7 linked regions of the Homo sapiens genome follow. The protein of the gene in region 4 purifies or fractionates together with the protein of the main gene of each other region. This does not show direct contact. Each region holds a gene or a part of one and is shown on either strand. Other genes may lie near its edges.

Region 1 (2,648 bases), on a different chromosome or scaffold from region 4:
CACCTTGGCTCCCAGCTTGGCTCCCAGCTTCCCCAAACCCCCTGCTTCCCACTATCAGTGGGAAGTGTAAATTTTTTTTTTTTTTTTTGAGACAGAGTCTCGCTCTGTCGTCCAGGCTGGAGTGCAGTAGCGCAATCTTGGCTTACTGCAACCTCTGCCTCCCGGGTTCAAGTGACTCTCCTGCCTCAGTCTCCTGAGTAGCTGGGATTACAGGCGCCCGCCACCATACCTGGCTAATTTTTGTATTTTTAGTAGAGATGGGATTTTGCCATATTGGCTGGTCTTGAACTCTTGACCTCAGGTGATCTGCCGGCCTCAGCCTCCCAAAGTGCTGGGATTACAGGGAAGTGTAAATTGTACACTATCATTTCTTAGCACAGGGAACCAAAGTCCAGCAGAGCTCCATGTAAAATGTATAGCCTCAGGAGCCAAGCAAAACTGAGCTTCAGTACTCAGCCACTGTGTGACTTAGGGCAGGTCTCAGAACCTCTCTGAGCCTCAATTTCCTCATGTATAAATTGGGTGTGGCCAATACCTATTTTTCAGGGTAGTTGTAAGAAATAGAGATGAGAGAAAGAATCGAAGAACAAGATTTTGTAGTGTGTGTGTGTGTGTGTGTGCGTGTGTGTGTGTGTGTGTGTGTGTGTGTGTGTGTGTTTTAAGCATTGGGATTGGGCCGGGCCAGGTGGCTCATGCCTGTAATCCCAGCACTATGGGAGGCTGAGGCAGGTGGATCATTTGAGCTTGGTAGTTCAAGTCCAGCCTGGGCAACATGGCACAATCACATCTCTACAAAAATTAGCCAGGTGCAGTGGCGCACACCTGTAGTCTTAGCTACTGGGAAGCTGAGGTGGGAGGATCACTTGAACCCATGAGGTCAAGGCTGCAGTAACCAAGGTCATGCCACTGCACTCCAGCCTAGGCAATAGAGCGAGACCCTGTCTCCCAGAAAAAGAAAAAAGAAAGGAAAAGTCGGAACCTTCCTCTGTCGCCTAGGCTGGAGTACAGTGGCATGATCATAGGTCATTTACCTCAGGCAAAGAGACAGGCTTTCAAATAATGTTTCTAACTATAAGAAAATGTACAGTTCTTTTATTCTAGATAGTTAATTATAATAGAATTGGTGACTTTGAAGTCAGTGGGTTATTTATCTTGAGGGTGGTGAGCAAATTCAACTGCCCTTGGCAAACAGTAGTTTACAGCTTTAAGGGCGCAAACACCCTTCCTTACAACAGTCTAATAAAAGGAGTTTCATATAACCAGCATTCATTGTTTCAAGGTTACAAATCCACAGCCCCTGCAGGTAACTGTTACAATAAACTGTCAACTGTGACAGGAAAGTCTTCTGCCTTTGAAATTTAGGAACTTGGCCAGTCCTGGTGGCTCACACCTGTAATCCCAGCACTTTGGGAGGCCAAGGCAGGTGAATCACCTGAGGTCAGGATCAGGAGTTTGAGACCAGTCTGGCCAACACAGTGAAACCCCGTCTCTATTAAAAATGCAAAAATTAGTTGGGCGTGGTGGCACCTGCCTGTCATCTCAGCTACTCGCTAGGCTGAGGCAGGAGAATTGCTTGAACTCCGGATATGGAGGTTGCAGTGAGCCGAGATTGCAGTACTGTACTCCAGCCTGGGCCACAGAGCGAGACTCCATCTCCAAAAAAAAAGACTTAGGAACTCAATTCTGTGATAGCAAAATACAGAAATAGAGATTATACTTTAGGCTAGGTGTTGTGGCTCACACCTGTAATCCCAATGCTTTTGGAGGCTAGGGTGGGAGGATCACTCGAAGCCAGGAGCTTGAGACCAGACTGGACAACATAGTGAGACCCCCCACCTCTACAAAAAATTAAAAAAAAAAATAAGCCAGGTGGGAGAATTGCTTGAGCCCAGAAGTTTGAGAGAGCAGCCTGGGTAACATCACGAGACCTCATCTCTACAAAAAACAACAACAGGGTGTGGTGACATTCACCTGTAATCCCAGCTACTCGGGAGGCTGAGGCAGGAGGATCGCTTTAGCCCAGGAGTTCCAGGCTGCAGTGAGCCATAATCATGCCACTGTACCCCAGCCTGGGTGAGACCCTATCTCAAAAAAAAAGATTACACTTTCATATTATGGCAAAAGCATGTAAATATCCTCCAGCCTCCTTCCTTATTTATCTGAGCAGTGCTGCAAGCCCAGGGTTTGTACCCACAAAACCCCAAATTTATAACTCAGGGTGCTTGTAGATACCACTGAAACATGTAGCTTATGGTTTTAAGCTACATGTTTTTAGCTATAATGTTTTTTGTTTTGTTTTGTTTTTTGAGATGGAGTCTCGCTCTGTTGCCCAGGCTGGAATGTAGCGGTGCAATCTTGGCTCACTGCAACCCCTGCCTCCCAGATTCAAGCGATTCTCAAGCCTCAGCCTTCCGAGTAGCTGGGATTACAGGTGCGCCACCACGCCCAGCAAATTTTTTGTTTTGTTTTGTTTTGTTTTGTTTTTTAGAGACAGAGTTTTGCTCTTGTAGCTCAGGCTAGAGTACAATGGCGTGATCTTGGCTCACTGCAACCTCCGCCTCCCAGGTTCAGGCGATTCTTCTGCCTCAGCCTCCTGCGTAGCTGGGATTACAGGCACGTGCCACCACACCTGGCTAATTTTTGTATTT
Region 2 (3,500 bases), on a different chromosome or scaffold from region 4:
GAAACCCCGTCTCTACTAAAAATACAAAAAATTAGCTGGGCATGGTGGCGGGCGCCTGTAGTCCCAGCTATTCTGGAGGCTGAGGCAGGAGAATGGTGTGAACCCGGGAGGTGGAGCTTGCAGTGAGCTGAGATCGCGCCACTGCACTCCAGCCTGGGTGACAGAGCGAAACTCTGTCTCAAAAAAAAAAAAAGTTTGCTGAATAATTTAAAGTTGCTGCTCTGCCCCAAGAGGTCTCCTGCTTGTTCCCACTCTCTGCTGTAGGAAAACTTTTTTTTTTTTTTTGAGTCAGGGTCTTGCTCTGTCACCCAGGCTGGAGTACAGTGCGTGATGTAGGCTCTCTGCAGCCCCAACCTCCCCGGCTCAGGCAATCCTCCTGCCTCAGACTCCCAAATCGCTGAGACCACAGGCACATACCACCACACCTGGCTAATTAAAAAAAAAATTTCGTACAGATGGGGTTTTGCCATCTTGCCCAGGCTCGTCTCGAACTCCTGGCCTCAAGTGATCCCCCCACCTCAGCCTCCCAAAGTTCTGGTGTTAAAGGTGTGAGCCACCGCGCCTGGCCTGCAGGAAGATCTTTACTCCTCAGCGTCTCACTCCAACAGAGATCCGGCTCCCACTCTCAAGCTCTCCCTGTTCCTCTCCCCACCAGGCGGGTATTATCATTCCCATTTTACAGACGGGAAAATCAAGGCTCTATGACACCTCTTTACAGGCGTCATAAGGAACCTGAGGTCCAGGCTGGCTCTCCCGGAAAGCCCAGAGTACCTGGTATTTGTTGGTGGAATTGAAGGGAATCTCAGCCACTTTCTTGTTGCGTTCACGCATCAGCTTCACGGAGCCAGAGGACAGCTCGATGCACTTGAGCAGGGCAGACTCAGACGCATCCCCAGCCACATCCCTCTGCAAGGAGAAAGGGTTGTCAGAACAGGGACAGCTGAGGGGAGGACACAGGCAGGGCCGAGGTGAGGCCAGTAGCTGAACCCACCTTGAGCACAGGGATGTTGTCCTGACCACCCTTGAAGACAGCGCGATTGCAGAGCCCAGCGATGTGAGACAGGGCCACCCAGGTGTGCGAACTCTTGTCAAATGAGGTCCCTGGGGGAGGCATGTGTGAGGGCCAGGGACTCCTGGAGCCAGGCCCCCATGGTCCTCACCCGGGGCCTGCGCTCACCTGACTGGTCCTCAGTGGTGTCAGCCTCGTGGATCTGGTTGTCAAACCACATGTGGGCGACTGTCATGCGGTTCTGAGTGAGGGTCCCTGTCTTATCTGAGCAGATGGTGGACGTGGAGCCCAGGGTTTCTACAGCCTCCAGGTTCTTCACCAGGCAGTTCTTCCGGGCCATGCGCTTGGCGGTCAGCGTCAGACACACCTGGAGGACGAGCAAGGGCAGGCAAGTTACAGGGACAAGCCCGGCAGCAGGGTTGGATGAGCGACACGAGGGCCACAGCCCAGCTGCCCAGCCCCCAGAGAATCCTGAGGGCCTGGAAAAGAATGAGGCAGCACCCAGCAATGCCACCCCCAATTCAGACCAATAGAAACAGGGCAGAGACACCCAAAGACAGGGACTAGAATGCTCATAGCAGCCACATGCATAATAGTGCAAAACAGCCAGGTGCAGTGGCTCACGCCTGTAATCCCAGCACTTTGGGAGGCCGAGGTAGGCGCATCACTTGAGATCAGGAGTTCGAGACCAGCCTGGCTAACATGGTGAAACCCCATCCCTACTAAAAATACAGAAATTAGCAGGGCATGATGGTACACTCCTGTCATCCCAGCTACTTGGGAAGCTGAGGCACGAGAACCCCTTGAACCCAGGAGGTGGAGGTTGCAGTGATCCGAAATCGTGACACTGCACTCCAGCCTGGGCAACAGAGTGAGACTCCAACTCAAAAAAAAAAAAAATTGTCCAAAACTGCAAACTACTCAAATGTCCACTAACAGCAGAAAAGATAAATTGTGGACAATGGAATACTAACATTGATAAAAACAAATACATTACTGCTGCCTGCACCTGCATGGGTGAACGTCAAAAACATGTTCAGCCAAAAAGAGCCAGAAATGAGTTCATACTGAATTATTCCGTTAATAGGAAGTTTGAACACAGGCAAAGTTAATCTATGCTGTTAGCAGCCAGATCAGGGGTTACCCTTGGGTTGGGGGGCAGGGGCTAAATAAGGTCTTGAGGGGGCTTCAGGGAGACGCAGTCTCGTTGCAGCTGACGTGATTCTGTTCAGTTTGCCCCAAATCATCAGACTATGTGCTCACAATATGCTTAATCCTTTGCGTATAAAAATCCATTTGACATAGGGTAGCATTCAACATTGCTAATATGGAAAACAGTAAACTTTTTTTTTTTTTGAGACACAGTCTTGCTCTGTCGTCCAGGCTGGAGTGCAGTGGCTCGATCTCAGCTCACTGCAACCTCCACCTCCCAGGTTCAAGCAATTCTTGTGCCTCAGCCTCCCAAGTAGCTGGGATTACAGGCGCCCACCATCACGCCTGGCTAATTTTTGTATTTTTAGTAGAGATGGGGTTTTGCCATGTTGGCCAGGCTGGTCTTGAACTCCTGACCTCAAGTGATCCACCCACCTCGGATTCCCAAAGTGCTGGGATTACAGGCGTGAGCCACCCTGCCCGGCCCTAATATGGAAAACTTCACATAAAACATTAAGTCAAAGAATGAAAGAGGAGAATGGTATTTCTAAGATAGTCCCTGCCATGCACCTTGAAGACAGCATTTAGTCAATATGCTCACAGCTGTCAGGCGGAACCTCACAGAGAATGGACTTCTGGGGTGAAGCTGGCAGCAAAGCAGCCAGAGAAAAAATTTTTAAAAATAATAATAATAATTATTATTATTATAATAATTATTATTATTATTATTTTCTTGAGATGGAGTCTCCCTCTGTCACACAGGCTAGAGTGCAGTGGTTCAATCATGGCCCACTACAGCCTCAACCTCCCGGGTCAGCCTCCCAAATAGCTGGAACTACAGACATGTACCACCACGCCTGGCTAATTTAAAAAAATTTTTTTTTTTTTTTTTTTTTTTTTGAGACAGAATCTCGCTTTTGTCGCCCAGGCTGGAGTGAGGTGGCACGATCTCGGCTCACTGCAAGCTCTGCCTCCTAGGCTCAAGCTATTCTCCTGTCTCAGCCTCCTGAGTAGCTGGGATTCCAGGCACCCATCACCACGCCTGGCTAATTTTTATACTTTTAGTAGAGATGGGGTTTTGCCATGTTGGCCAGTCTGGTCTCGAACTCCTGACCTCAGGTGATCCACCCGCCTCGGCCTCCCAAAGTCTTGGGACTACAGGCATGAGCCACTGCGCCCAGCCTTCACATTTTTTGGTAGAGATGGGTTCTTACTATGTTGTCCAGGCTTGTCTCAAACTCCTGACCTCAAGCAGTCCTCCTGCCTCAGCCTCCCAAACTGTTGGGATTAAAGGCGTGAGCCACTGCGCCAGGCTTATTATTTTATTTTATTTATTTAT
Region 3 (3,500 bases), on a different chromosome or scaffold from region 4:
AAACTCTTCCATCTTCTCCATGGCGTGGTGGGCTTGCAGGGGAAGTGTCAGTACCCGCACCTCCTCCTCTTCTTCCTGGGGCACTGGGCATGTTTGCTCTTCTTCAGCCTATGGGGGAAAAAACCCACAACAATCCAGGGAGTCATCTCATAAATTGTACTATTCCAGAGCAGAGAGACCCAGAAAAACCCAAACCTAATGCCTTCTGCCCAGCCTCTTTCCTACAGAGGGTCTTGTGGTCTCTTCTCCAAAAGCATACACACTGAGTTTACAACACTAGTTAGAAATTTATTAATACTTCGTAAATGCTGGAGTGAACATTCTATGCAGTGCGTAAAAGAAGGACTGTCACAGAGACTAGCATTGGGGGAATACACCAGCTCTAGGTACTGAATGACATCCTTTTCTTTAGGATAGTGGTTCTTAACTTTCCTCAGTTTCCCAAAGAGTTCTCTTTTCTAAGCCATTACATTTTCTTTCTTTCTTTTTTTTTTTTTGAAATGGAATATCCCTCTGTCACCCAGGCTGGAGTACAGTGGTGCGATCTCTGTTCACTGCAACCTCCGCCTCCCGGGTTCAAGCAATTCTCATGCCTCGGCCTCCAAGTAGCTGGGATTACAGGCGCCCACCACCATGCCTGACTAATTTTTGTATTTTTAGTAGAGATGGGGTTTCACCATGTTGGCCAGGCTGTTCTCAATCTCCTGACCTCACGTGATCCTCCTGCCTCGGCCTCCCAAAGTGCTGGGATTACAGGCTGAGCCACCATGCCCAGCCTACGTTTTCAAAACAACGAAAAAGACACAGAGTCTCAGAGAGTTCCATAACAATAATTCTGTTCAGAGTTCCCTGTTCACTGACTCTAGGGATGCTGTCATGATTGAAACTTTGTATCTACAGCAGCTCCCAGGAGTACCAGGGCCTCAGAACTGGTTCCATGGAAAACAGCGGTACTGACTCCAGGGCCTAAAAAAGCGCACCCAGAGGGCCGGGCGCGGTGGCTCACGCCTGTAATCCCAGCACTTTGGGAGGCCGAGGCGGGCGGATCACGAGGTCAGGAGATCGAGACCATCCTGGCTAACACGGTGAAACCCTGTCTCTACTAAAAATACAAAAAATTAGCCGGGCGAGGTGGCGGGCACCTGTAGTCCCAGCTACTCGGGAGGCTGAGGCAGGAGAATGGCATGAACCCTGGAGGGCGGAGCCTGCAGTGAGCCGAGAACGTGCCACTGCACTCCAGCCAGGGCGACAGCGAGACTCTGTCTCCAAAAAAAAAAAAAAAAAACACACCCAGGAGAGCACTTGCCTGTGAAAGGGAGAGAACTTTCTCTCTCTCTATCCCAAGGCTCCGAATCATGGCTATAGAAAGCCTGGCAGTTCAACTCCTTTTCTGGGCTATTTCTCTCCTGTTGCTGATGGTCACTAGTAAACACATGGTCCATCTTAGATTTTGTGCTACAGCTTCCAGCCAGTCTACCCTAACATCCATTCTCTCTCTTCCTAAGTAACAAAGCCCACGGTTTTGTTCAGGGTGGCAATGTTACTGCAATTTTACTCAGGCTGCACTTTCTAACCTCCACTGCAGCTGAATATAGTTATGTAAGTAAGTTCTGGCCGAAGTCTTATGAGGTACTTCCTGATAGTCCCTTTATTTATTTTTGTTTTTTCTGAGAGGGGGTTTCACTCGTTGCCCAGGCTGGAGTGCAATGGCACGATCTCGGCTCACTGCAACCTCTGCCTCCCAGATTCAAGCGATTCTCCTGCCTCAGCCTCCCGAGTAGCTGGGATTACAGGCGACTGCCACCACACCCAGCTAATTTTTGTGTTTTTAGTAGAGAGGGGGCTTCACTATGTTGGCCAGGCTGGTCTCGAACTCCTGATCTCAGGTGATCCACCTGCCTCGGCCTCTCAAAGTGTTGGGATTACAGGTGTGAGCCACCGTGCCCGGCCCTGATAGTCCCTTTAAAAGGCAAAGAGTTGGCCGGGCACAGTGGCTCATACCTGTAATTCCAACACTTTGGGAGGCTGAGGCAGGAGGATCACTTGAGCCTAGGAGTTTAAGATCAGCCTAGGCAACATGGCGAGATCTTATCTCAATAAAAATAAAAGGGAAAGAGAGGGCCTTTCTTCTCGTTTCCCTTTCATGGGGGGTAGAATGTGGGTATGATGGGCACATATTAAGAGTGATGGGAGAGCAACACAGGTGCCTGACAGTGGTGGATCCTCCATATCAGCCCTGGATTGGTTACTTCTGAAATTCTTTTGCTTGAGAGACTTCTGTCCTGTCAAAACTGTAAGGATTTTTGTGTGTTATATGAAGTCAAACCTAATCCTAATTGACTGCTTCCTTCATTCATTCAGATATTTACTGATTATTTATTGGACTGCAGGCCTTGTGCTAAGCACTGGTGTTACAAAGATGAGTGCATTCCCAAAAGCTTACAATGGGGAAAGCAGACAACAAGATGTTTATAACAGTATCATAGGGACTTGGATAGAGACATTTCCAGGATGCAATGTTCCTCCTTTTGGACGGTGAGCTCTTAAAAAAGAGAAAATGACAGAGTTCTAAGGAGAGAAACTGAACAAGGGGATGACTCCTGGGAAGATGACTTACTTTGGGTGGGTTGGCGATTACCCGTTTGCCCTTCTCTTCTAGCAGGGGTCCCAGTTCAGCCAGTTCCACCGTGTCAGCTTCCCTGTTACTGGCAGGAGCCCCATTCCCCTGTGCCACCACAGATCCTTTGTGGGAAGACATCTGGCTGGTACCTCAATACCCTGCAGCTTCAGCTTGGGGAAAGGTTGGGGTCTCTCAGCCCCAGGGGGCAGAGATCTCCCTCTGATGGTAGACACTAAAAGAAAATACAAACATGAAGGATTGACAATTTATTCCTCTTACAGTTTCATTTCTATACTCTAATACTGAATAAGAAGCTAATCAACTCATATCCTGTCCCCAATTCTAAAGGCCAGTTAATTGCTTAAATGAAATCTATTCCTGTCCTCCCTCTTTAATGTCAACCTTTACCCAGAACCTCACTAATCTTATAGGTAAGGCTGAAAATGTAACACCTAGTTGCTTGCTTTCATATGATCTATGGTTACTGCACCAAACTGTCACCATAGAAAAACAGCTACCCACCCTCAACTCCCTCCCACAGGTATGGAACCATTTAGTGAGAAGAATCTCATCTATCACTCCCAAAGCTCACTCTGCCCAAGAAAGGCCTAGCTCTGAGACCGAGGAATAAAAATATAAAGCCAACATCTGGCTGCAATTACTACAAGATCATCCAGGCTTAGAAATGAATTAAATGCCAACTGAACTCAGTTAGACCTTATCTACAAATGCTCTGATAAATGTGTCATACATACAAAAGGAACTTGGTTGTGGGACAGATGCCTAGTGGTTAATTTCTCTGCGAAGTCTACTAATTCTATTACAGGATTATAGCCTGAGTTCAACCCTGGGATAACAAGCTTTCATCACAATCTGTCCT
Region 4 (3,500 bases):
GACACCTTTGGGAACAGGCAGACACAGACCAAGGCCCTCCGACACCCAGAGGACACACACATGCACAAACACGCTCTCCAGGCAAAGCTCGAGGGTGAGCCCCCTGACCTCAGGAGCCGAGAGGGGGCAGGAATCCAGGCAGGCTCGGACTCCTGCAGCCCTCCGCCCCAGCTGGGCTCACCAACGTCTGAGCAGGAGACCCTAGACCCTCCTACCCGAGCTTCCTGAGCCTGCCTCCCAGCCTGGGACCCAGCCTGGGCACTGTAGGCACTGAGGGTGGGCAGAGCAGAGACCTCGTAAGGGAAGGACAAAGGAGCCCAACCTGATGTCCCCGGACCAGGAACCAGTGTCAGAGGCCAGGGCAGAGTGTGGGACACAAGCACCTCATCCCTGCTACTGCAGACACCTCTCCCTTCGCATGTCTGTCTTCCACCTGGGTCACCCCACAGCTTCCTCCCTACAGGCAGAGACAGGGAGGATGAGGGGTTGGGATGGGGAGGAGGAGGAAAGGGAAAGGAGTGGGGAGGAAGTATGGAGAGATCAAGAGAGAGGATGGGTAAGGAAGGATGGGAGAAGAGGGAGGAAAACACGCTGGGGATAGGAGGACAGGAAGAAAGGAGGGGGGACGAGGTCAGACCTAGCTCCCTGACCCCCACCTCTTTTGACCCCAAGCCTTCTCACCCAGCAATAGCAACCAGCCACCTGCACCCCCACCAAGGCAGCTCCCAGCTCTGCCTTGCCTGGCCTTTCAGGAGTCAATAGAGACCTCAACTCCCTCTGTGGGAGCCGTTCAGGGTCCAGCAGAAGGCCGTGGCCTCCCCAGTCCAGGTGTTCACAATCTCATAATGTGTTCCCTTGAACTTCTTGTGTGTTCTGTGTCATTCTGCCCTGACATGTTCATAACCATAGAACCCAGGACAGCTTCTCCCTCCCTTGTGCCTGCGGCAAACCCCCAGCACAGACCCTGGCATGCTGAACAGCCTAGGCCCCCTGCGCAGAACCTGCCCCCCACCCACATAGACCCCTAGCCCACGGTACAGACCTTGCCCCCTGCATTGACCCTGCGCACCTGCCTGCACACAACCTGTCCCCCCTGCAAAGATCCTGCCCCCTTGCAAAGACCCTGGCCACTCTGCACAGATCCTACCCCTTGCACAGATCCTGGCCACTCTGCACAGACCCTGGCCACTCTGCACAGACCCTGGCCACTCTGCACAGACCCTGCCCTCCCTGCACAGATCCTGCCCTCCCTGCACAGATCCTGGCCACTCTGCACAGATCCTGGCCACTCTGCACAGATCCTACCCTCCCTGCACAGATCCTGGCCACTCTGCACAGATCCTACCCCTTGCACAGATCCTGGCCACTCTGCACAGACCCTGGCCTCCCTGCACAGATCCTGGCCACTCTGCACAGATCCTGGCCTCCCTGCACAGATCCTGGCCACTCTGCACAGATCCTGGCCACTCTGCACAGATCCTACCCCTTGCACAGATCCTGGCCACACCTGCAAAGATCTAGTGCCCCCAAAACCTGGCACAGACCGTGCCCCCACCCCACATAGATGCTATCCCCGTGCGTAGATCTTGGTCCCTCTGTACAGATCCTGCCCTCCCTGGACGGGTCCTGTCCCCCGACTCCCTTGAACAGACACTGACTCCCAATGTAGATCCTACCCACTGCACAGATCCTGGCCCCACTGCAAAGATCCTGCACGCTGCACAGATCCTGTTACCCCCTAAAAGTCCTCCCCGCAGAGACTCCTGCCCCCATGCAGAGATCCTGGCCTCAATGCACAGATCCTGGCCCATGTGCAGATTCTGGCCCCTTGCATGGATCCTGCCCCACCCCAGCCAGCTCCAGTCCTACCTCCTCCAAGAAGCCTACCCCAGGACCCCCAGCCCTGGGAACCTTCCTAACTTGGCCATTATTCAGTAATACGGCTGCCAGGCTAGGCCTGTGAGCTCTGGTCTCAGCAGATATCCTCTGAGAGTGTGGTCAGCAGAGCCCCGCAGGAGGCAGGCACCTGGCCCCTCACAGGCGCAGTCTTAGAGTGAAAGACAGGCCTGGTCACCTGGCTAGGGGATTGGCCAGGTGTGACACTGACAGTGCTCCCTGGGGTTGGCAGGGGCCCAGCCCTGGACCCAGAAACGCTCCCACGGAGGAGAACTGGTGGTGCAGATGAAATGGCCCAGGTATCTCTAGACCCCTAATAGAGTCCTGCCCTCCCCCAACCTGCCAAGGGTGGGGTGGTCCCTCCAGAAGGGGGAAGGTAGAATCAGGGTCCTATATAGAACATATATGTTACACAAGAGATAGCAAGAGGCACATGTTATATGAGAGAGCAAGACAACCTCAAACACACATGTTCTGGGCAGGCGAAACAATATGCAAGGATACTAGGGATAGCCCAAGACACGAACGATGACACGCGAATGACAGCACAGAGCTTGTGTGCGAGGATACTAGGGATAGCCCAAGACACGAACGATGACACGCGAATGACAGCACAGAGCTTGTGTGCGAGGATACTAGGGATAGCCCAAGACACGAACGATGACACGCGAATGACAGCACAGAGCTTGTGTGCGAGGATACTAGGGATAGCCCAAGACACGAACGATGACACGCGAATGACAGCACAGAGCTTGTGTGCGAGGATACTAGGGATAGCCCAAGACACGAACGATGACACGCGAATGACAGCACAGAGCTTGTGTGCGAGGATACTAGGGATAGCCCAAGACACGAACGATGACACGCGAATGACAGCACAGAGCTTGTGTGCGAGGATACTAGGGATAGCCCAAGACACGAACGATGACACGCGAATGACAGCACAGAGCTTGTGTGCGAGGATACTAGGGATAGCCCAAGACACGAACGATGACACGCGAATGACAGCACAGAGCTTGTGTGCGAGGATACTAGGGATAGCCCAAGACACGAACGATGACACGCGAATGACAGCACAGAGCTTGTGTCCACAGATTAAAGCCTGACACAGGCTGCTCTTGGAGCTCCTGGGTATTTGGGCAGGCCTGGGTTCCGGGGTGAGATTCACACCCACTCAGCAGGCAAATACACACACCTCACTCTCATCCAGTGACTCAGAATCAGCAAACGCCAGACGGCAGCTGGAACACTGTCTTTTGTCCTCCCCACTCCCACCCCCAGGGCAGGCACAGTCTACCCTCCTCCTTCCACAGGCTCACCACCCTGGGCTGGCCAAGAACAGGAATCAAGGCAGAGGGTCTGGCAGCCCCTCACAGAGCAGCCATCCCCCAGGGAAGCCAGTCACCAGGCCGCACATTTGTGCTATTAAAAAAGTGAAAGAATTTTTAACAATTCTGAGTTTCATCAAAATAAATTACTTTGTCCTTGTGATTTTAACTTTACAAAATCTATATACAATGACAAAAAAAATTGAGTTGTAGCTTCTCAATATCATGTTAAATTTTGTAGTCATTAATAAAGCTTACTAATTTGACTTGAAGTTT
Region 5 (3,500 bases), on a different chromosome or scaffold from region 4:
GTGCGGTGGCTCACACCTGTAATCTCAACACTTTGGGAGGCCAAGATGTGAATATCGGTTGAGCCTAGGAGTTCGAGACCAGCCTGGGCAACATAGCAAAGCCTTCTCTCTACAAAAAATTAAAATAAAATAAGAAAAAAAGAACAAAACAGAGTTGTGAGTGGCCTCAGGGATCATCTATTATAATTTTTCAATGAATGTCACAGTTTTTTTAAAATAAGGAAAATGGATAAATGGAAAGCTCAAACAGGCAGTCTTTGATTATACTCTACATGTTTTCATATTGTTGTAATCACAAGATAAATACAATTTTGTATCATTTGTCAGTACATATTTATATAAAATAGTTTACATGTTATAGTACCTACACTTTTAGTGGCTTTATAGTCTATCAAGTGAATATATCATCATTTAAATTTTTTTCTACTGTTGGTAATTTTCTAATTTCCTGATATAGTAGACAACATTGCAATGAACACGTTTGTGCATATAGTTATTTTCTTCTATTAAATAGTTTTGTTAGGATAAAATTCCCAAGAGTGGCATTATGGGATTATAAAGCATAAACATTTTTAAGGACCTTCAATTTGAAAATACCAGCTACTCAAATACACATGTTTAGACACAGCAAGCAACATCTGGCACATGTAATGGAATTCCTGCAAGGATAACAGGATCTAAACATTTAAAAAGATTGCCTCAAGGTCATCCAGGCACCTAAATCCTGGCTTTGTCACTCAACACTCTATAGCCCTTTTTGCAAGGCCTGAGCCATAATAAAGGTTACATGGGCTCCTCTGCTCATGGAGCTTTTTCTATCCTGGTTATAACCTTCCCAAGAGGGAAACCTGAAATGACCTGAAAATAAAACATGTGAGAAGTCAAATAATTTGACCACCCACCTCCACCACCAATTCCCAGTTAAGCCATGACTTACTTTTCCAGTGCACTTCGAACAGGAGGCAACCCCCCACAGCTGTGTTTGTAGACTGTTTCCAGGATTTGACAACCATGAATCTGTGGAAAATACGGCCTTGTCAAACTGGATTCCATTCTAAGAGTCCATGCAAGACACATTCTTATTCCATATTCAACCAAGAGGGCACAATCTAGGAGAGACTGGGGATAAACTTTCTCCTAAGATTTACACATAGTGGTTCTCAAAGAGGGACCTCTCTCCCATCAGCAGCATGACCTGGAGACTCATCAGACATGCAAACTCTTGGTTAGAACCCAGCACTCAGTGTTTCCACAAGCCCTCCAGGTGATTCTAATGCACAGTAAAGTGTGAGAACCACTGCACTTAAAGCAACCAGAATCATTTAGAGTTGGAACACCAAAGCCAAGGAAAGCTTTTTATTTCAAGTTAAGGCCCAATTCAGTCTACTTCTAAGGTATATACTTTTTCAAAAATCCTCTGCCTCTATGTTCTTCAGACTTTTTTTTTTTTTTTTTTTTTTGAGACGGAGTCTTGCTCTGTCGCCCACGCTGGAGTGCAGTGGTGCAATCTTGGCTCACTACAAGCTCTGCCTCCTGGGTTCACACCATTCTCCTGCCTCAGCCTCCCGAGTAGTGCGACACAGGCACCCGCCACCACGCCTGGCTAATTTTTTTTGTATTTTTAGTAGAGACAGGGTTTCACTGTGTTAGCCAGGATGGACTCAATCTCCTGACCTCGTGGTCCGCCCGCCTCGGCCTCCCGAAGTGCTGGGATTACAGGCGTGAGCCACCATGCCCGGTCCCCAGACTTTTATTTTTACCACTTTGAGGTATAATTTACAATGAAATTCACCCATTTTAAGCATACTAATAAACAATTTTTAGTAAATTTCAAACACTGGGCAACCATTACCACAATCCAGTTTTATAACATTTCCACTACTCCAAAAAGCGCCTTTGTGCCTGTCTGCAATCAATCTCCATTCTCAACCCAAACCTAGAATTTTGACCACCTGATTTTAAAAACTCTGAAGAGCCTTGGTACACTAGTTTCTCTACCACTATTCTGGCAGGGAGGAAGATTCAGCCATCTGCAATCCCCCTATTTTCCACTCTCCTTCCTATAGCCAGCGGAAGTTGAAGGCCAACTGAGACGTGCAGCTAGGCCTGGCTCCCTTATGCTGTCCTCATTAACTCTATTTGCCTAGAATGTCTCCTTTTATTTTGGGAGATAGTTTAATCTAGTGGTTAAGAGCACACTCTTTGGAGCCAGATAGAGCTGGGATATAAACCCATTTACTACTATCTGTGTGACACTGGGCACACCCCTTAACCAACTTAGCCCTTTAGTGGATTGTGTGTGATAATGTATTTAAAGCACTTAGCACAGTGCCTAGTACACAGCCAGTGACAGTAAAAGCTGGATGTTGTTATTTGATGAGGACAATCAGCTTTGAAGGGCCAATGAGCACCCACCACTGGCTTTGCTGGCACAGCATGAACATAGCAGAGCACTGTTTCTACACTTACACAGTTAAAAATGATGCAGCAATGTGGCAGATTAACTGGTTTACTAGTTACATTAATGAAAATGAACACCCCTAATAAGCTAAGGCACAAATAAAGAGCTTAAAAAAAATGACGACTTGAGCTAAAGATGTTTAATCCATTTGTCCACTTGGTCCAATTGTGGACCAATTCAATAGGACAGCAGATTCTTCTAATATGAAATCTCAAAGCATTTATTCCTCAGACTTATTAACTCTGCCCAGAAAGACATTCTCCTAACTTCTCAATACACCTGATAAAAACTTGTGATAAGAATAGGCATATTTATTAAACATCTGGCTTTCACTCACTGATCTCAAAATTCTCAGAAAACTGCCAGCACACTAACCATAAACCTATTACCTTCTTCCTAAGAATTAACTTTCTGCTTCACACCCAACAGTTCTAAAACCTTACTGCAGGTTCCTCTCACCTGCAAACATCCACAGCACTTTTTTTCTTACCCCAACAACATTCTTGGGAACATCTATGAACATTTCCTCTACCTTCTGGACCAGGAGGTGTTTAAAGGCAGAGTCATACTTTTGCATTCCTGACACTTAACATGATAACCAAGCAGATATTGTTAAATGAATGAATAAATAAAAACTACTAAAAACTAGGGTCTTCGAAAAATAATGTAAAGCAAAATTAATTAGTAATATTCCCTCAGTGCTTAGCAAAGCAAAAGGAATAAGGAAAGTTCTCACCTTTTGACTTTTAATTTGTTCTACTACAACCATCACAGAGGGAAAAAGAAGCTGGAACTGCAAAGTAGAGAATAATTAGAAGGGTATGTAATCAAATGTAAGGGAAAAAAAATCAACTTGGGAAATGCTTTTGTTTCTAAATAGTTCAACTTAAGATAAAATGGCAATACCACAGAACAGTCAAGATCCAGCATCCTAAGGCAATTTGATGTGGAGGTTCGCTGCAGATAGGAAGAGGATGGCAGAGAGAGGCAGTTTCTTTTTTTTCTTTTTTCTTTTTTTTTTTTTTTTTGAGACAGGGTC
Region 6 (3,500 bases), on a different chromosome or scaffold from region 4:
TGTAGGCCGTGTCCTGAGGTGTTTCCTCCAGCAGCGTCACATAGCCAAGCGTACAGGTGAGGATGAAGAGCACGGTTAAGGTGTGGGCTCGCCTGAAATCCAAAAACGCATAAGCATGGTGTCAGAGCTTGGGCAGCATTGCTAAATACTCACGTAACAGGCCCCAAATCCTCTCTACGTCAAGGAGAGGGCTTAAACTCCACTCTCCAACTCCCAACCAGCAACTGGCTGCGAGTCCCTAGCTGGGTAACTCCGAGATGACCCTGCGTCTGCTGGCCAGTCAGGGCTGAGACCAGCCCCCAGGAGGCTGGACAGGAAGAGCCCCGTGTTCCTGGGAAGCTGAAGGCCGCTGCTCAGAGGGCACATGCTGCCACTGGCGTCCAGGGCAGGTATCTGCTATTAAGAGCAACTGGACACGTAAAACACGCGCTTTTCACTGCGCAAGACAAGCCGAGACAACAACTCTTTGGGTTCATGAAATAACATCTGAGATTCAGTGCAGCAGCCCAAGACACCAAGAGCTGAGAAGGGGCCTGAGCAGAGGCCTGCAGAGTGACCGCTGCTAGCTGGAGTGAGCCACGAGCCGTGGGTCTGCCCGTCCTCTGGCCTGTCAGAGCCCAGACGTGGGAGGAGGAGGCAGGGCGCTCCCTTTGCAGTCTTGTCCTGTCCCATCGCTGGTGGAAAAGCCCACAACCAGCCTAGTATCAGAACTGGGGGCCACCAGACCCCAGCCACTGCCTGTGCCAGACACTCGCCTGAGACCCCCTCTGCATGACCATCTGCAAATGGAGGCAGAGACCTAGTTCCTACATCCATCGGAGTGTGTCCTCGGAGAGATGATGCACCCCTCTGTGCCTCAGTTTCCTCATGTCTAACCCAGGTCCTACATCCACCAGAGTGTGTCCTCACGTCTAACCCAGGTCCTACATCCACCGGAGTGTGTCCTCACGTCTAACCCAGGTCCGACATCCACCGGAGTGTGTCCTCACGTCTAACCCAGGTCCGACATCCACCGGAGTGTGTCCTCACGTCTAACCCAGGTCCGACATCCACCGGAGTGTGTCCTCACGTCTAACCCAGGTCCGACATCCACCGGAGTGTGTCCTCACGTCTAACCCAGGTCCGACATCCACCGGAGTGTGTCCTCACGTCTAACCCAGGTCCGACATCCACCGGAGTGTCCCCTCACGTCTAACCCAGGTCCTACATTCACCGGAGTGTGTCCTCACGTCTAACCCAGGTCCTACATCCACTGGAGTGTGTCCTTGGAGAGATGATGCACCCCTCCGTGCCTCAGTTTCCTCATATCTAAATGGGGAAGCTTCTGACTTCCAAGGACATCATGAAAATTAAGTGAACAATGCACTTAAAGCATGTTGCCCAGGACTTGCCTCCATGAAATGTAAACTATTTGTGCCCTAAAGAAATGAAAAGGCAAGTCACAAACTGGGAGAAAATATTCACAATACATATATCTGATAAAACTTTGTAGGCTGCACGCGTCTGTAGTCCCAACGCTTTGGGAGGCTGAGACAAGAGGATTGCTTGAGCCCAGGCGTTCAGGACCAGACTGGGTAACACAGTGAGACCCCATCTCTATAAAAAATTAGCCAGGCGTGGTGGCAGGCACCTGTAGTCCCAGCTACTCGGGAGGTGGCAGATTCGCTTAAGCCCAGGTTGAGGCTGCAGTGCGCTAGGATGATTGTGCCACTGCACTCTAGCCTGGGAGACAGAGCAAGATCTGTCTCAAAAAAAAAAAAAAAAAAAAAAATCAGGCCAGGCGCGGTGGCTCACGCCTATAATCCCAGCACTTTGGGAGGCCGAGGCGGGCGGATCACGAGGTCAGGAGATCGAGACCATCCTGGCTAACACGGTGAAACCCCATCTCTACTAAAAATACAAAAAATTAGCCGGGTGTGGTGGGTGGGCGCCTGTAGTCCCAGCTACTCGGGAGGCTGAGGCAGGAGAATGGCGTGAACCCGGGAGGCGGAGCCTGCAGTGAGCCGAGATCGCGCCACTGCACTCCAGCCTGGGCGACAGAGCGAGACTCAATCTCAAAAAAAAAAAAGAAAAAAAATACTTTTTATCCAGAATTTATAAAGAACTCATACAGCTCAATAAACAATTTAATGAAAAAATAGGCAAAAAATTGAACAGACACTTCACAAGGAAAACATACAAATGGCCAATAAGCACATGAACAAACGAGGAGCAGCACTGGTCACCGTGAAAGCAAATCCAAGCCAGGACACATCAGTACACATCCGCTGGAACGGCTGAAATTAAAAGCATCACAAATCCAAGCCACGACACAGCATCAGTGCACATCTGCTGGAACGGCTGAAATTAAGAACATCACAATGCAGAGTGCTGGTGAGGTCTCGGAGCAAGATGCTCACGCACTGCAGGTGGGACTGCAAAACGGCACAGAAAAGTGAGGCCTATGCTACGTCTGCTATCCAGCCAGCCACATACTCCCAAACGTGGGCCTGAGACAGATGAAAACACAGGTCCAGTCAAAGACACACTCCCAAACGTGGGCCTGAGACAGATGAAAACACAGGTCCAGTCAAAGACTTACATGCAGATGTTTCAGGTATAATAACCTAAAACGGGAAACAAACCAAAACTCTATCAGTGGAGGAAACACTGTGGTCCCTCCGACCAGCGGAGCATGGCTCAGCACTCAGAGGAATGTGCTGCTGGCAACGACCTCAACGTGGATAGATCTCAAAGACACGCCCCTTGGGAGGCCCAGGCAGGAGGACTGTTTTGGGCCAGGAGCTCAAGACCAGCCGGGGCAACATCATGAACATCGTGAGATCCCGTCTCAAAAGATAAAAAAAGAAAAAGAAAAACACGCTACAGACGCCAGGCACAAAAGAAACCTCCCATCTGCTGTCACCCACACACGACTCAAGGAAATGAGTTTGCATCCACGAAAAGCAGACTGGAGCGGAGACACGGGCCTTCCGGATGATGGAATGTTCTGGTGTGAGCGTGGTTGTGGCGGTGCATGGGCGTGTCACCTGCACGTGGGTGCTGCACTGAACGCACCCACACCTGGACTTAGCCGATTTCATGAAGAGCCAGGGTGGAGCTGCAGGACTGCAGGTGGAGGCTCCAGGCTGGAACTTTCTGTATTTTTTGTGCAGATGGGGTCTTGCCATGTGGGTCAGGTTGGATTTTTTTGTATTTTTTGTAGAGACGGGGTCTTGCCATGTTTTCCAGGCTGGTCTCAAACTCATGAACTCAAGGGATCTGCCCACCTTGGCCTCCCAAAGTGTTGGGATTACAGGCATGAAAGTGAATTCTTCTGCCATATTTTACAATACTAGGCATTTAAGACAACCAGAGGTAAATAAAAGTTTCATTGTGACTATCAACCACCTTTTTCTTTAGATACATTTGCATTTGAGTCCTAAGCCATGAGGAAACCGCAGGGAACCTCAGCCTTCCTGCTGAGCTCCACACCGTGGGGCCCTTCAGTACTGAGAGAC
Region 7 (3,500 bases), on a different chromosome or scaffold from region 4:
CCTGGATAATGGTGACTGAATGATTGATGGAACTGACTTTTTGCTTTCCTTTTTTCTTTCTCCACTGGTGGCCCTATGTTCCTATTAAGAGAATCTTCCAGCCAGGCATGGTGGCACACGCCTGTAATCCCAGACTTTGGGAGGCTGAGGCAGGCAGATCACGAGGTCAGGAGATTGAGACCATCTTGGCTAACACGGTGAAACCCTCTCTCTACTAAAAATACAAAAAATTAGCCAGGTGTGGTGGCACGCGCCTGTAGTCCCAGCTACTCGGGAGGCTGAGGCAGGAGAATCGCTTGAACCGAGGAGGCAGAGGTTGCAGTGAGCCGAGATCCCGCCACTGCACTCCAGCCTGGGTGACAGAGCAAGACTCTGTCTCAAAAAAAAAAAAAAAATCTTTCTGCCTGTTTTTTGAAATAGCCACAGGAGTGAGGCAATCTCAGCTCCTGCTCACACATCTTTTTGTAGAATTTCCATCACAAAGAATGGTTATTAGAATCTCTACTCTTGGCCCAAAGTGTCTGTTTGCTTTTCTCCCAATCAGGAAATCACACTGTTGGATCTTGATCTTAATCTCTTGGACATGCCAACTTTCTTGCTTCTTAATATCATATAAATAAAAAATGTTATTAAGCCAGAGACTTACTTTTCCTTTTTCTCCCCTCTTCTCTTTTTCAGTGGATACCTCATTGTTATGCCTCATTGAAATGAAGAGCTAGGTTTCTCTGCTTCTCCTGGTCTTTCATATATTTTGTTAAATTGAGAATGTCTTGTCTCACGTGCTCCTCTCCTGCCAGGAACTGGCTGAGTGAATGCGAAGAGACTCTGGATGTGGAAAGCGGTGATTGTCAAACTTTATTTGTAAAAGAGTCTCTTGGAAGCTTGTTATAATGCGGATACCTTGTTCTCTACATGGTGATTCTGAGCAGGTCTAGGGTGAGGATTGGAATCTGCATTTATACTCGCTCTTGGGTGATTCTAATGCTGGTCAGCCTTGGACCCCACTTTTAGAGACATTATCTAGTGGCTGAAGTAATTAGGTGGGAAGTTGGTTTCAGTGCCCATCCTAATTGAGCATGAGTCTGGGTGATCTGTGGGCAAGGCATTAAGTGTTCTGGCACCATCTCAATACCTGTTAAATAGTGTGATTCAGATTAGAGGATGAGGGCCCCAAGTTATTGTGAAGAGGGTTTTAAGGTAGCTGTAGAGTTCCACTGGCTTGTTTGGTGACTGTTAGTTATGTCAATGGAGTATTTCAACCAGGCCACCTTTATTACCTTCCAGTGATATATGGAATATATCCCTCCAGTCCTTCTATATCCCCCCGCTTTCCAGTCTCTAAGATCTGCAGGGACTAACAAGAGGGAATGTTGACACATGGTTTGTTGTATGCTAACTCTCTGTTTGCAGGACTGTTGTTTTAGATGTTCGTGGGAGTTTATTCTTTCTTGCGTTCACTCAACAGATATTTATCGAATGCCTATTGTGTGCCAAACATTGGTGCCAGGTATTGGAGATTCAAAGAGAAATAAGAAGCAGTCATTGTTGATGTACTTTCAAAAACAAAACCAAAAACAAAAAAAAAAGAAGAAGTAGCCTTTGCCTTCATTTTGTTCACAGTTTTGATGAGATGGACAAGGAAATAGATCAACTAAATTACAACATTACATGTATAGTAACAGATTTGAACAAAGCATAGGGGACAGGGGTCTTTTTTTTTCCTAATGCAATTAAGGAAAGCTTCCTAGAAGAGGTGGCATTTGAGCTGGCTCATGTTAGCTCCATGAAAGCAAGGACCCTTGGTTTTTGTTCTCTTAGTGCCTAGAACAGGGACTGGCTCTAGTAGGTGCTCAATAAATGTATTTGAATGCGTAGGAATTCATTGGGTGATGGAGGAAGGAAAGCAATTCTAGGCATAAGAAACAATAAGTGCAAAGGCTATGTGCTATCTCCCCATTTCTCCTATTTAATATCTATTCACTTACCCAGGGTTCAAGTAGACAGGAAGAGGATGGATGTGGAGAGCAGTGATTATCAAACTTTATTTGTGAAAGAATCCCTTGGAAGCTTGTTATAATGTAGATGTCTAGCTCTCTTCATAGCAATTCTGAGCAGGTCTAGGATGAGGATGGGAATCTGCATTTATAAGAAACTCCCAGATGATTCTAATGCCTGTGAGCCTTTGACCTCACTTTGAGAGATCCTACCATAAGTTCGCAGAGTTGCTTCCTCCTTCACAGAAAAGTGTCTCAACTGTAACCTGGAATTATTTGCTTATTATTATCAGGGGTAGATGTCTTACTTCTCCCTTGGCCAACTAAGTGAAACTCTAGGAATGCTCTGTCATTTCTAGGCTGTTGATAAACGACCTGCAGATGCCCTTGAATCCTCGATAGGGGATGAGATAGAAAATTGTGTTCTCTGTGCTGTCCCAAGGAGGGCCCACACTGTCAACAACAGAGGCACACAACATTGGGGTAAGTGAACAGACATTAAATGTGAGAAATAAGGAGATAGCAGGCATCCCACCTGCAACCAGTAGATGCTTTTTAGTGGCTTGTGGATGGTTGCTGCTCTAAAGTCCACAGCAGCACTAATGAAGTGTGGTGCCATCTTTCTACCTTTCTTTTTCATATCTCTTCTTCCCTGTTTCCAAGTCTGTCCACCTGATCCACCCCACACAAGTTCCAAAACAATCCTTTCTATAATTCAAAATGCCCATCTCATCAGAGGAGATGATAGCCATGGGGGATTAGGAAGAAAGCAGTTTTATTTCAGAGGTTCATACTGAAATGTGAGTGGACAGACTCCACTGGGCGTCAGGGAGAGGATGAGTTTTAAAAAAGGGCCTTGTTACCCTAACATTATATCTAATTGGTAGACTGTGTCTAGTGTTTTTAAGCAGATGTCCTTTCTCATGTGCCTTGCTCAGGTTTTGGCCTCTTCTCTCCCGCTAAAGCCCCTGATCAGGAGAACTGGAGTTATCCATGCCTTGCCACCCTACATGCTGACCCCCAGGGTTTCATATTAATGTAAATCTCCCTCCACAGTGCTTGGATGCAGCAGTTAATCTGAAGGCCTGGCGAGGACCCCTCTTCTGGGCACCAGTCAGTCCTCTGTGTTTACTCAGCTCTTTCCTGGCTACACAGGGCAGCGCTTGCACATCTGTCAGTTCATGGGCATCAAGGCACTTGGACCTGTTACCAGCATGAGATCCTGAAGGGAAGGGTTTGGGGGATCTCTTGATTGGTTTTGGTTCCCGTCTAGTAGCTGCTGGAGGAAATGGCAGAGGGAGGAAGGATAATATGAGTTTTATTCTGAGCTGGGTGGTGTTGAGGGAAGGGAATGGATTGCAGGAGCCAGGAGGTCAGACAGGATTGGCCTGTTTGGCGAAAACAGTGCAAGCTCTGCCCTGTGGCCATGTGTTTAGGTGGGTAGGAGAGGGAGGAGTGAGATCATCTGGAGGGGAAAGGAAGCATGGTACCATCCTAATTCTAGCC

The links.
Region 1: the proteins of OPRL1 (region 4) and CLN3 purify together in Homo sapiens (affinity purification with mass spectrometry; one large-scale study listed by BioGRID and IntAct). This does not show direct contact.
Region 2: the proteins of OPRL1 (region 4) and ATP1A3 purify together in Homo sapiens (affinity purification with mass spectrometry; one large-scale study listed by BioGRID and IntAct). This does not show direct contact.
Region 3: the proteins of OPRL1 (region 4) and ADIPOR1 purify together in Homo sapiens (affinity purification with mass spectrometry; one large-scale study listed by BioGRID and IntAct). This does not show direct contact.
Region 5: the proteins of OPRL1 (region 4) and TUBGCP4 purify together in Homo sapiens (affinity purification with mass spectrometry; one large-scale study listed by BioGRID and IntAct). This does not show direct contact.
Region 6: the proteins of OPRL1 (region 4) and PTDSS2 purify together in Homo sapiens (affinity purification with mass spectrometry; one large-scale study listed by BioGRID and IntAct). This does not show direct contact.
Region 7: the proteins of OPRL1 (region 4) and TMEM164 purify together in Homo sapiens (affinity purification with mass spectrometry; one large-scale study listed by BioGRID and IntAct). This does not show direct contact.

The regions. Positions count from the first base shown.
Region 1 is NC_000016.10:28,479,427-28,482,074, reverse strand, and holds part of CLN3 (battenin), read left to right. Parts: intron 1-2,648.
Region 2 is NC_000019.10:41,980,731-41,984,230, forward strand, and holds part of ATP1A3 (sodium/potassium-transporting ATPase subunit alpha-3), read right to left. Parts: intron 1,377-3,500; coding exon 1,178-1,376; intron 1,102-1,177; coding exon 992-1,101; intron 907-991; coding exon 772-906; intron 1-771. UniProt on the Homo sapiens protein: This is the catalytic component of the active enzyme, which catalyzes the hydrolysis of ATP coupled with the exchange of sodium and potassium ions across the plasma membrane.
Region 3 is NC_000001.11:202,948,313-202,951,812, forward strand, and holds part of ADIPOR1 (adiponectin receptor protein 1), read right to left. Parts: intron 2,853-3,500; 5' UTR 2,759-2,852; coding exon 2,618-2,758; intron 109-2,617; coding exon 1-108. UniProt on the Homo sapiens protein: Receptor for ADIPOQ, an essential hormone secreted by adipocytes that regulates glucose and lipid metabolism. Required for normal glucose and fat homeostasis and for maintaining a normal body weight.
Region 4 is NC_000020.11:64,086,582-64,090,081, reverse strand, and holds part of OPRL1 (nociceptin receptor), read right to left. Parts: coding exon of another isoform or gene 3,483-3,500; intron 458-3,482; exon of another isoform or gene 323-457; intron 1-322.
Region 5 is NC_000015.10:43,377,601-43,381,100, reverse strand, and holds part of TUBGCP4 (gamma-tubulin complex component 4), read right to left. Parts: intron 3,255-3,500; coding exon 3,198-3,254; intron 1,018-3,197; coding exon 938-1,017; intron 1-937. UniProt on the Homo sapiens protein: Component of the gamma-tubulin ring complex (gTuRC) which mediates microtubule nucleation.
Region 6 is NC_000011.10:456,779-460,278, reverse strand, and holds part of PTDSS2 (phosphatidylserine synthase 2), read right to left. Parts: intron 93-3,500; coding exon 1-92. UniProt on the Homo sapiens protein: Catalyzes a base-exchange reaction in which the polar head group of phosphatidylethanolamine (PE) or phosphatidylcholine (PC) is replaced by L-serine. Catalyzes the conversion of phosphatatidylethanolamine and does not act on phosphatidylcholine.
Region 7 is NC_000023.11:110,009,614-110,013,113, forward strand, and holds part of TMEM164 (transmembrane protein 164), read left to right. Parts: intron 1-3,500.